2 linked regions of the Homo sapiens genome follow. The protein of the gene in region 1 interacts with the protein of each later gene in a pairwise test. Each region holds a gene or a part of one and is shown in the gene's direction. Other genes may lie near its edges.

Region 1 (3,600 bases):
TGCTCAGGAGGCTCTGGAGTTGGGACAGCCCAGTTAAAAAAAAAAAAATCATTGATTTCCCTCCCAACGAAGAGGGAGAAAACACGTTAGGAGACTCGTGGCCCAGTCCTGGCAAAAACCAAAACTATGTCCCTTTAGAGGGCTTAGATATCAAGAGATGGACTTGCTTTTAGTTCTTTTTCCCATCCTGTTCCCTCCCTACCAAAATAAAATTGACCAGCTAATCCGACTTAATAACACTAAAGAATTACTTAGGAACCTGCTATCTTAACATTTCACTTTTTGCATATCCTCCAAATACCAGGTAGCAGTCTTACTACTGTTTGCACCCCTAGAACCTGGAATAGTGCTGCCCGCAGAGGAGGAAGCAATAATTACTTGTTAGAGAAGGTATTGCTGTGCATTTCTGGGGAATTTCACATTTTGTAATTTGCTTTAAAAAAAGTGGACAGGCATATTTACGGGGGTTTCTCGGACTTCTCCATGTTAATATTCGTGTGTATAAATCGCTCCCGTGCTGCTCTCTGGGGGCCCCTCTTTCACAAACACCTGGCCACCCTCACGCCACAATGGCCAGGCAGGAACCTCGACCTCCCCTCGGAGAGGGGGCTCAGGGTCAACCCCGGGGTCTCAGTCTCTACATGTGACGTTTTCCTGTCCCCTCATTTAAAATAACAAGAGGCTGGGCGCAGTGGCTTACGCCTGTAATCCCAGCACTTTGGGAGGCCGAGGCGGGCGATCACGAGGTCAGGAGATGGAGACCATCCTGGCCAACACGGTGAAACCCCGCCTCTACTAAACTACAAAAAATTAGCCGGGTGTGGTGGCGGGCGCCTGTAGTCCCAGCTACTCGGGAGGCTGAGGCAGGAGAATTGCTTGAACCCGGAGGCGAAGGTTGCAGTGAGCTGAGATCTCGCCACTGCACTCCAGCCTGGTGACAGAGCCTGACTCCGTCTCAAAAAATAAGAAAAAAAAATAAAATAAAAATAATAGAGGCCGAAGCGGGAGGTTCACTTGAGCTCAGAAGTTCGAGATCAGCCTGGGCAACACAGTGAGACCTCGTTTCTATTTAAAAAATAAAATAAAACTAAATTTAAAAAAATGCACGCTCATAGTACAAACTTTAGAAATGGAACGAAAAACTAAAATTGAAGGTATTCCCCTCCAACCCAGAGATAACACCTATCGTTTATTAAGCCCTCACTATTGTTAAACTTAGTTTTAAAGGGCACGATCTCATTTCTTAAAGACTTCTATTCCGCAGAATTTCTTTCCAGGCTTTTTTCTTTTTCTTTTTTTGAGACGGAGTCTCGCTCTGTCGCCCAGGCCGGGGTGCAGTGGCGCGATCTCGGCTCACTGAAACCTCTGTCCAGTCTTTTCGAACCCAAGGCCCAACTGCGCTCTATCTCGACTTTCGGCTCCACTCGGATCCCGAAGTGGCGCACGAGATAAAATGTTGTCAGGCTGAGGTAATTCTCTGTTAGTCCCGGTAAAAATTCGTCAGTCTGGAAAGCTCTCGGTTTGGAATTAAATTCTGTCACTCCGGATGGAAATAAGTCCGCTTAAGGGGGGAAAATCCGTTTGTGGAGGACACGCTCCCGCACGTAACCCCCCGCGGAAAATGACCCCAAGTACCTTTGGCCAGGGATTGCCGCTGCCACGCCGGACTCCATAGCCACGGTCCTGAAACGCCCCGCCGGGCAGGCCGGACCAATGGACGCCGAGCTCGGCCGTGCGTCACGCGACGCTGGCCAATCGCGGAGGGCCACGACCGTAGAAAGGCCGGGCGCGGCGAGGCTGGGCGCTGGGCGGCTGCGGCGCGCGGTGCGCGGTGCGTAGTCTGGAGCTATGGTGGTGGTGGCAGCCGCGCCGAACCCGGCCGACGGGACCCCTAAAGTTCTGCTTCTGTCGGGGCAGCCCGCCTCCGCCGCCGGAGCCCCGGCCGGCCAGGCCCTGCCGCTCATGGTGCCAGCCCAGAGAGGGGCCAGCCCGGAGGCAGCGAGCGGGGGGCTGCCCCAGGCGCGCAAGCGACAGCGCCTCACGCACCTGAGCCCCGAGGAGAAGGCGCTGAGGAGGTGGGCGAGGGGCCGGGGTCTGGGGCCAGATCTGAAGCCGGGACTAGGGACAGGGGCAGGGGCAGGGGCTGGGAGCGGGGACCCAGCACTGGCCGCCCCGCAGGGCTCCGTCGCCTTTGGCCTGGCGGGTCGGTGCCAGCGTGGCGCGGGGCGGGGCAGGAAGCCCGGACTGACCGGATCCGCCACGCTGGGAACCTAGGGCGGCCCAGGGCTCTTTTCTGTACTTTTTAACTCTCTCGTTAGAGATGACCAGAGCTGGGGATGCGGGCACCTGTCTTCCAGGCCCTCTTGCTGTGTGGCCGCAGACTGGTGGTTCAGCCTCTTAACTCGGACATGAGGTCGAATAATCTGTTTTGGTTTACTGCTATTTCTGGAGAGGCGCGGAGCTGAAATAACAGAGCTGTTGAAAGGGCTGGGAATTCTGCGAGGCTCACTGGTCTAGCTCAGTATCTGCGTTCTTAAAATGGAACCTACTTCATGAGGTCTTTGGGGAGATTGAGACTTGGATATAATGTGCCTAGCACTTAGTCCTCCGTAAATGTTCACTCTTTTGTGATCATTGTGCCTTCTGTGATTTATGAAGTGTCTCTTCTGAGTTAATTCTTTTAAAAAAAAAAGTGTCTCCTCCAACAGACACGGACCCATCAGCAGGTCACTGCCTAGGATCTCAACACTAGAGATCAGGGAGTGGCATCAGCCTCTCCCTTTTCTAAATTGGACTGGGGGACGGAGGGTTGATGTCATAGCAAGATTGCAGCCTTCACTAGATTAATGAGGCCAGGTTGGATCCTGTTTAAGAGAACTGGAGACAGGAAGCAGCGGGGGAATAGATGGGGAAAGAGGAAAGTTCCTTATGATGCAAGATGAATAGTGTGTGTGTCCAGCCCCAGTGCTGTGACGGGGATGAGTCTGAGGTGGACGGATGATGCAATATAGGAGAGAATAAAGCAGGTCTTCGAGCTAGATTGACAGAAGACTGTATTTTTTATTTTGTTTTATTGAGGGGAGGAGCCTGAAGTGTATTTTATCATTAGTCTGTCTTATACTGTAAATAAAAATGAAAGCACCAGCTGGTAAAGTTTTCAAATAAAGACATAAATAAGGTTTGATATGACTCAGTGTGGTATGTTCCTTCTCTTCCTAGGAAACTGAAAAACAGAGTAGCAGCTCAGACTGCCAGAGATCGAAAGAAGGCTCGAATGAGTGAGCTGGAACAGCAAGTGGTAGATTTAGAAGAAGAGGTAAAACTACTTAAGGTCAAACTCTTTTATCCATTGTATACCCTTCCTTGGTGAATGTTCTGATATTTGCTTCCCATCCCAAGTTGTTTCAGCCCCTATTAGAATACAATTGAATATATGATTAAAAGTTAAACTAGGCTGGGCATGGTGGCTCATGCCTGTAATCCCAGCACTTTGGGAGCCTGAGTTGGGCAGATCACTTGAAGCCAGCAGTTTGAGACCAGCCTAGCCAACATGGTAAAATCCCGTCTCTACCCAAAAATATACCAAAAAAAAAAAAAAAA
Region 2 (3,825 bases), on another chromosome or scaffold:
TTTGTACTTGCGTCTATGCCTAGCATTTTTGTTACGTGCATGGATCTGCAAAGGAATTGTGGTTTGTTTCACAGCTGCATGTAGCAGGCATATGTGTGACATATTTTTATTTCAGCTATTATTTCCTGTTTTTTATTTTCAGCATGTTGGAACAGGATTCCAGGAGAATGAACCCTAGTGTGAGCCCTGCAAATCAAAGGAGGCACCTTCTAGGATTTTCTGCTAAAGAGGCACAGGACACATCAGATGGTATTATCCAGAAAAACAGCTACAGGTAAGATGGCATGCATCTATCTTTTGGCCTAAGTGATTTAATGAAGCTGAAACAAGAGAATTATCTGTAGTATAACATTGCATCTAAATTGTTCGTGTATATTTTGAGTAGTAGAACACATAAATTACTGAAACCATTAATACATTTTACTTTTAATATTGTAAAATTAAATTTACTTTGAAACCTTTTGTAGTTTTAAAATTCCTATAGAGATGTAATCTTAAAATCTCAGTTTGTGTGCATTAATATACATATTGAAATATATACATATTATATATAATGTCTTTAATAATTATTTTATCTATCATGTGTTTATACATATAATACATCTAATATTTGTTACTGTCTCACCTGTGGATGGATATGATATGGTGGAATAACATGATTGAACCTATTTGCAGTCATTAGGTAAAATCATTTATACTCATTTATTGTGATCTTTGTTGAATCCCTCCCTTGTTGCAATTTAATAATGACTTGATAAATTTCCATATTGCTTGTCAATAGCAAAAGGCTTTAATTGTATAAAAATGCAATTTCTATATTATGTTAACTAGAAGAAGGTATAGTGGACATTTTTATAGTTGTATACTTTTTGATAAACATTTCCCTGTGTTATTTAGAATTTGTATTAGAGCCAAATGGAGCCAGGTCCTTGACTAACAAGGCAAAGGGAGGTCACAGTATGGTAACTATTGCACAGTATAATGCTTGAAAATTATTACAGATTTGTTTACTTTTATCTCTTTAAGGATTTGTAGGTTGAGGGCAATCTTTCTTCCTGATTTTTACTGTGTTACATCCATACTGTTGAAAGATGATCACCACAATCCTGCAGGCTTGTCTCCACTTAGCCTTCCTGAAAAAACTGTTATTTTTGTGGAGTACAGTATGCCAAGTCAGTGGAGGACCCAAAGGATTTTATGGCAGTAGCTGCAACGCAACATAGCAATGATAGATGTCATAATGTTGGAAAACATAGCATTTCCTGCTTTTTTACATGCCAAAATTCATCATACTTCTTAAAATATTCACCTTGATGATCTCTTAACGGTGCCCCTGAATATTGGTAGAGTTTAATAGTATATTTAATTTTCATAAGTAATTTGTGCAGGTTTGCCCTACGTGTTCTATAATTTTGAATTCTGTTAGTGTCCACATAAGATCCATCAAAAATTAAATTTAAATCTAATAGCCTTTGGATTTACGAGAGTTGAGATAGCGTCTTGCTAAAGAATAGAACAAGTTATGGATTGAATGCTTGAAATTACAGTTCAGGTAAGCTTTACAAGAATATTATTTATTCTGCACTAACTGCAGCAAGTAGAAGCCTTCCACATTAGCATAAGATAACATGGTGGCTCCCAGAAAGCATAGTAGTCTGATCATACTAGTTCAAACTAAAAGTCTGAATGACTTTCTGGCTGAAATTTATCAGCTTTCAGAGTAGTACATGGGATGCAAGCTATTTTTTCCCTCCCTTCTCCAAAGTCACCATTGAGTGAATAATCTGGGTTACTGGTCTTGGGGAAAAAAAAAAACCAAAAAACAACCCAGGAAAGATTATGGATTCTTGATTCCATGCAAGTCCTTTGAAATATTTTTCAGCAACTTGAGAGATTTAAATAAATGTCAGTCCATTAATTTGATGTTCTTGATTTTATCAGTATAAATACTGAATAAAAGATACCAAAAAATGTTTGTGAAACATTTGAAAGCACCTAATATTACTTTGTTCTGTGTTCTGAACTGAATTTTAGATGTTTTATCTATTTTCAGCCGTGATACCTATACATTTTTTTTAATGCAGCTTACTTTATGTTTCTTTTTCTAAGGAGAGCTATGAGACATGGTTCAAATAAAAAATGAGTAGATTCTAATCCCATAGTTTATAATATTGTATTAGCCTATCATTTAGTAATTAACTGCTTATATTTTTTCAGTCATAGAAATGTGTGGCATATAAATAGTATGACCATATAATGTTCTATCAAACTGGGACACTCTTAAGAAGGAAAGGTAGTGCTAGTAATAATTACATCAGAATACCAGTACTGCTGTCTTGGATAAATGAGAAAGGATGGTCACCCTATATAAGATGTCACCCAGAACTGATCTTTACTCCAAGAATTCTCATTAACTCTAGCTCCCTAGCACTGTCCTTTACTTTATTTACTTTAATGATTTATTTGTTGAATTTTTTTCTCTTGGCATAAAATGTTTGCAAGCAGACTCGAACTCTGACTGTTCCTGGGCTAATGTTGGTCTAATTGTCTCCAGATTGTATGTTGGCTGATTTTCTCTCTCCTTTAACTCCACCCAATCCTTGTCCTGGTATTTCTCCTATCAGACTTTTTTTTTTTTTTTCCAAAGAATATTTTTGGCTGATAGAACAAAGCCAGTTAGCACAGATGTGCAGAAATCATTACTAGAGTTCAGATCACAAATATATTTTCAAAAGCAGTTTTGGACTTTTCTCATGGACTACAGTGTTTGTATTTTTCTAAGTATGCAGGCATGATTTTTAAAATAATGCGTATGTCATAGATTTATAAGAAGAGGTGTTAAGCAGCCTCCTCTTAGAGGCATTCAGATTTATCAAACACAAGACAGATACTTTTTTTCCTTCTCACTCAATGCTTCATTTTAGGCTGATCCTTTTGTGTTTGCATTCATTACCTGTGCACCAACATGTCTGTTTTATTCCAAACAACTTAAACCTACTTAACCCTTACAGCCACAAGAGAGGACATTGAGAATATTCCTGGTGCAAGTTGCAGGGAAGAATGTTCTATATATCCTCTGCTATTGTTTCTTTTCTCTCGTGTGTGGCATAAATAGCTATCTCTAACTTTTAACTTGAAGTTAGCCTTCCACTCTGCCAGAGTTATTTCTGTTAAGGGGCCAGTGCTTTCTGCCATCTTACTTGCCCTTTCCTCAGCATTTGGCTGTGTGGGTCATTTGCTCCTTGAAAGACTTTCCTTTTGTGTTACTATGGTTTTTTAGTTTCCTTTTTTTATTGGCTGCTGCTTCACAGTAATCTTTGTGGGCTCTTTTTTTACCCAACTCTCAAGGTTTGGAACTGTAAACTTTTTTTATTTTCTTTCTGCCTAGGTGACTCATCTATAATTTCATGCACAGTTCATATCTATATGTCCTGATGACTCTCAAATTTATGTTTTCAGTCCAGACTTCTCTTCTGAGTCTCCAGAGTCACATATCCAATAGTCTCTTTGACATCTCTGTTTTAACATTTCAAACTTAACATGTGCACTGTGGAACTCAGTTCCTCTCCCTGTTTTACTTCCAACCAATTTTCTACAACTGTGTTTTTTCCTTTCCATTGCTTAAGCCAGAAATCCTGATTCCTGTCTTTCAACAAGTGTTGTTGATACTCTTCCCCAAAATTGTCTTGAATTGGTCCACTCCTCTCCGTCTCTGCTGCCACAAACCTAGTCCATGCCATCATCAGTTCTTGCCAGGATTGCCATAGCTCTTTCCTAATCAGTGTCTCAGCTTCCCCTTTTGCCTCCATTGAGTCCATTTTTGGT

The links. The genes of interacting proteins can lie anywhere in the genome.
Region 2: the proteins of XBP1 (region 1) and ATF6 interact in binary tests that used the Homo sapiens proteins (3 or more experiments, as listed by UniProt).

The regions. Positions count from the first base shown.
Region 1 is NC_000022.11:28,798,773-28,802,372, reverse strand, and holds the start of XBP1 (X-box-binding protein 1), read left to right. Parts: upstream 1-1,803; 5' UTR 1,804-1,848; coding exon 1,849-2,075; intron 2,076-2,295; exon of another isoform or gene 2,296-2,336; coding exon of another isoform or gene 2,337-2,413; intron 2,414-3,219; coding exon 3,220-3,316; intron 3,317-3,600. UniProt on the Homo sapiens protein: Functions as a transcription factor during endoplasmic reticulum (ER) stress by regulating the unfolded protein response (UPR).
Region 2 is NC_000001.11:161,846,307-161,850,131, forward strand, and holds part of ATF6 (cyclic AMP-dependent transcription factor ATF-6 alpha), read left to right. Parts: intron 1-142; coding exon 143-274; intron 275-3,825.